Regions from separate parts of the Homo sapiens genome. Here region 1 is linked to region 2. A link means that fine-mapping ties the variant in region 2 to the expression of a gene that starts in the linked region. Tissue or cell type: blood mononuclear cells. Region 2 holds a variant in brackets; the other region holds the start of a gene. All regions are shown on one strand. Distances are from middle to middle.

Evidence for each region. PIP is the estimated chance that this variant, and not a neighbour inherited with it, causes the effect.
Region 1: CCNJL starts here. The variant in region 2 is fine-mapped to the expression of CCNJL in blood mononuclear cells (TOPMed, PIP above 0.99).

Annotation. Positions count from the first base shown.
Region 1 is chr5:160,310,968-160,313,653 of GRCh38, forward strand. It overlaps CCNJL (cyclin J like), which reads right to left and starts at 1,597. Exons shown (of 6, transcript NM_001308173.3): 1 at 1,397-1,597; 2 at 891-1,005. The coding sequence starts at 956. RefSeq lists silencers at 1,526-1,645, 1,756-1,815.
Region 2 is chr5:160,273,582-160,276,267 of GRCh38, forward strand. All of the region lies in intron 3 of CCNJL (cyclin J like), which reads right to left. Among named protein-coding and RNA genes, the nearest start is that of CCNJL, 38 kb to the right of the region's middle. The variant A/G (reference allele first, on the strand shown) is at 1,120.

The sequences.
Region 1 (2,686 bases), 37 kb after region 2:
GCCCTCCAGTTTGTGTGGTCCTTTGTAATGGCAGCCCTAGGAAACCAATCCATTCACTACTTCACACCTGTTCCCCAAGCCACCCCTTGCCAATCTCAGCCCAGGGACTGGAGGCAAGACACACAGGCCATGCCTCCAGCCCACCTGGACTCTTCCACCTTCCCAATGCCCCTCAGCCCTTCTCTCCTTGAGGGGAGGGGTGTGCAGGGATCACATTTCAGCTGCTCCCACCCACCTTCTGCCACAGGAGGCAAACCGGCAGGGGAGTTTTTGTTTTCTTCCCTCAGCCTCCCTGTTTTGTAGCCTCTTTCAATTATACAGGTGTTCCTTAAATTTCATTCGGTCCCATTCTAGATATACACATAGATACACGTATTTGGCCATAACCATGTATTCCCTGTACTACCACTTATCTTTATATAGAGTTACTACTTTTACTTAAATTTGTTTTAAAATAAACTGCGACATCATTATTACAATAAATGGAAAATCGCAAACGCAGAGCTTGCTAGATACATACACATTCTTAAATTACACATTAGAATGAATACACAATATTTTTTAAAGACCCCTTCACGTACGGTTTAAAATAACCTAGGGTGGCAATACTATAGGAAACACTGCCTTAGAGGTACAGTGGCTGTCTCTGACTAGTTGGCCCAGAGTTCTGAGCTCCTTATCAGAAAAACCAACTTCAATCTCTCCCATCTCCAGTCTCTAACCCCCGCCCCCCAATTCCGCTCAGACACTCCGGGAGAAGGTAAAGGGTAAGAGGAAAAAAAGGCACCCGGGAGTTCTGAGTTCCCACGCAGGCGACCTGAGAACACGAAGTCGAGACCGAAGGAGACTGTACCCAGTCTTGAGAGTGACAAGGGCAGGGAGGGACTGACCTTCTCGCGCAGGGTGCAGTGGACGTCCGAGGCGACGCGCCCTTCCCACCACGGCTCATCCATCATCGCGTACGCAGCGCCGCTATCCGAGGCTACCCGGCTCTCAGGGCGCACCCTGCGTGGACACGGGCAACTTCAGCGGCCAGAGCGTACCCCGGGCTCCGACCCCCGGTGTCCCTATCCTCTCTCGCCCCTGGCCCCGGGCCCCGGCGGGCGCCCCCTCCTGCGCCGCTCAGAGGAGCTGGAGGTCGCCTCTGGTCCGCGGAAGGCTGCGGTGCCCCCTCCCCTCTGCTCGCCGGACACGGGGCGATATGGAGCTGTGCAACAACTTGCAGAATTTTTATCTTCCCTTTTGCAAAAGTTGCAGAGAAAGTTGTCAACTCCGCTAGCTCGCTCGAGGCTGGGGCTCTGGCGGCGGCCACAGGCTCGCCGTCCCCAACTCCTCCCCCGCCGCCCAGCCTTTGTCCTGCTCCCACATCCTGCCCTCGAGCCGGGGCGAAACTCACGCATCCTCTCTGGGCGTGGGGGGCTGCGAGCGCCGGGCCCCTCCCAGTGCCGAGCCAGCCGTGCCCTCTGGTGCCTGCCGGCGGTTGGACCCTCGTCCGAGGCGCTCCGCACTCCCGACGGCCGCCTCCGCAGCCCGACTAGCCCCCGCCGTCGCCGCGCCCCTGCGTGCGCTCGGGTCCCGCCGCGGCTCGCAGGCTCCCGGCCGCCGGGGGCCTCCCTCCCTCGCTGGGGGAATTGGGGGCCGGGCCTCGCGCATGCGCTGCCGGCGCCCCCGCGCCCCGCGGGGCGGGGGGCTGGGAATTGGAGCCTTTCTTTGCCAGCTCTGGCTCCGCTTCCTGCCCGCCCTCCTCCCTCGCTTCGGCGGAAAGCTTCTCTCTCACCTTCGCTGAGGCTAGTGGTAGCCTTCTGGGCACCCCTCCGGCTTGCGCAGGGAGCAAAGGGACCGCGGCGCCACCTGCGCGCACCACGCGTGAAACGTGCGGACAGGACGCCCCCAGAAAGTTCTGCCTTCCGCGCGCACTGCTCTAGCCATCCTTACGTCGGTTCCACCTGTTTTTCTTTCTCTCTCTCTTTTTTTTTTTTTCCTGTTTTTGTTTTTTGTTTGTTCTCCTCTTCTTTGAAACCCGCCCTGCCATGGGGAGGTAGATTTCCAAACGGACAATTCCAGTGAAAGCTGCAGAAAAACCACCCTTGTTCACCCACGAGTCCCTAATTCTAAAGGAGCCTAAGTCACTGGTATTATTGTGCTCCTGCAGAATATGAACTATGCCTCACATTGGAGGAAAACCAGTCTTTTTTTGCCGGGTCCGGTGGATGGAAAACATTGTCTTTTTAATTCAATTGCTTGCTTTTGGAAAGTCATCCTTTTGAGTCAGCCCATCTGATGGCATAGCATTGGGCTATCCTTCTTGGCTGATTGATTTTTGTGATAGTTTTGGAGATTCACAAATTTGGAATCAAATCCACTTACCAACTGGGTGATTTTTGTCAAGTTCCTCAAACTCAGAGCCTCGTGTGTAAAATGGAAATAAAAGTTAAACCAACCTGCTGAAAATTAAAGGAGATAATGCGTGTAAAGGGATAATCACTACACCAGGTATTAAGTGAACACTCAGTAAACAACTGTGACTGAAGAGCCTTTAGTTTCTGACTGCTTTCCTGCACATAAAGACACACCTGGGAAAAAAAAATTAAATCAGCTTTGATAAGCTTCAATTGGACCTTGAAGAGCAGTTTTAATGTAAAACAAACGAACCATTTTAAAAGTGTAAGATACCTAAAAATAAACT
Region 2 (2,686 bases):
CAATCCATATGGGACACACAGCTCTGTGCGTGTTTGCAAAGCACCACGAAAGTGCCGCCACTTTTTTTTTTTTTTTTTTTTTTGAGACAGAGTCTCACTCTGTCATCCAAGCTGTGGTACAGTGGCGCGATCTTGGCTCACTGCAACCTCTGCCTCCCAGGTTCAAGCAATTCTCCTCCCTCAGCCTCCCGAGTAGCTGGGACTACAGGTGCCCACCACCACAACCGGCTAATTTTTTTGTATTTTTAGTAGAGAAGGGGTTTCCCCATGTTGGCCAGGCTGGTCTCGAACTTCTGACCTCAGGTGATCCACCCACCTCGGCCTCCCAAAGTGCTGGGATTACAGGCGTGAGCCACTGCACCCGGCCTACAAAAGAGTTTTAGCAAGTAGGCAAATTCGCAAGAACAGAACCCGTAATGAGAATCAACTGTGTTTGTATATCCATGGAACAATTCCAGAAAAATACACCAGATCAAATTCAGAAGAAACTGTTCCCAGGGGTTACCTGGGATTGGGAAAAGGATTTTTATTTTATTCTTTGGATCTCACTTTACAAGTGAGTATAATAATTGTAATTTTAAAAATCTATAGTAAGGGCCAGGTGTGGTGGCTCACGTTTGTAATCCCAGCACTTTGGGAGGCCGAGGCAGGCAGATCATTTGAGGTCAGGTGTTTGAGACTAGCCTGGCCAACATGGTGAAACCCCGTTTCTACTAAAAATAAAAAAATGAGCTGGATGTGGTGGTGTGTGCCTGTAATCCCAGCTACTCAGGAGGCTGAAGCACGAGAATCACCTGAACCCAGGAGGCAGAGGTTGCAATGAGCCAAGATCATGCCACTGCACTCCAGCCTAGGTGACAGAGTGAGACCTCGTCTCAAAAAAAAAAACAATCTGTAGTAAGGAGATGGGCCTTTTCACAGGTAAGCTCAGCACAGCATGACTGACTCACAGAGCTAAGGGACCCTGCTCTGCAGGAGGACCAGAGCCAGAGACGGGGGCTTTCCCACCCCCCTGAAAGAAAGGCCATGCGACCACCTCCTGCCAGACACTTCTCCTAGGGAGGAGGACAGGGGCCAGCACGAAGGTCAGCACAGGATGTGGCCCCACCTACAGAAACC[A/G]GAAGTCAGAACTTTACTGTAAGAGTCAGATCTATCAGCCTCACCTTCCACTGCTTTTCACAGACAACAGGCAGTGGGCCAGGGGCAGGAGGGGCTCAGAGGACAGAGGAAAACCACTCACCAGTGAGAAACCTTGTTTTCTCAGGGACAGGCTCAGGCTCAGGGTCCGGAAGTGACAGTGAAAGAAAACAGAAAAAGTACGATGGAATTGCCATTAGATGGGGAAGAAAAAGGAAGAATGGAAAAGGAAGGAAGAGAGGGAATCTGGCAGTTTTGTTCACTGGGTAGTGTGTAGGGGTGTAATCTATGATTCATTTTCCCCCCATAAATGAAAATAAATTTTCCCAGCTATGAAAACACATCTAGGTTTGGAAGGATTTGTGTGTTTTTTTTTTTTTTTTTGAGACAGAGTCTTGCCCTGCGGCCTAGGCTGGGGTGCAGTGGTGCAATCTTGGCTCACTGCAACCTCCGCCTCCCGGGTTCAAGCAATTCTTCCACCTCAGCCTCCTGAGTAGGTGGGATTACAGGTGCGTGCCACCATGCCTGGCTAATTTTTGGAATTTTTAGTAGAGAGGGGGTTTCACCATGTTGGCCAGGCTGGTCTTGAACTTCTGATCTCAAGTGATCTGCCCGCCTTGGCCTCCTAAAGTGCTGGGGTAACAGGCTTGAGTCACCGTGCCCGGCTGAGGTCTGGAAGGATTCACACAAAACTGTGGGAGTGGGACTGTGAGCAAAGGGGAGAAACTAATTTTTCACACTAGGTACTTCTGTACCTTTCAGGTTTTTTGTGTTTGTTTGTTTTGAGATAGGGTCTGGCTCTGTGGCCCAGGCTGGAGTGCAGTGTCAAGATCTCAGCTCACTTCAACCTCCACCTCCTGGGCTCAAGAGTTCCTCCCACCTCAGCCTCCCAAGTAGCGGGGACTACAAGCACGTGCCACCACACCTGGCTAAATGCTTTCAGGTTTTTAAAAGTAAAAACGTATCTCACACTTCTTGTGCAAAATAATAAGGTCTTACAGTTAAGGCCTAGCTACCCTAGCAAAAGGTCACCTCTTGCCCTCCTGGCTTTCTCCCCAACCCTCCCTCCCTCCTCAGGCTGGTCCATGCCCTGGGGCCAAAGACTCAATACTGCAGTCATCTCCAGGCAGCAACCACCAAGCAAAAGCAAACCTCCAAGGTGTCTCAAAAAGTCCAACATAAAATTACCACATGACCCATAATCCAACCCATAGGCATATACCCAAAAGAATTAGAAACCAGTGTTCAAATATAACTGGTACCCAAATATTCACTGCAGCGCTGTTCACAACAGCCAAAAGGTGAAAACAACCTAAACATCCATCAACAGATGACTGGATAAACACACTGTGGGATATACAATGGAATATTATTCAGTCATAAAAAGAAATGAAGGCTGGGCACTGTGGCTCACGCCTGTAACCCCAGCACTTTGTGGGACCGAGGCGGGTGAATCACCCGAGGTCAGGAGTTCGAGACTAACCTGGCCAACATGGTGAAACCTTGCCTCTACTAAGGATACAAAATTAGCCAGGCATAGTGGGACATA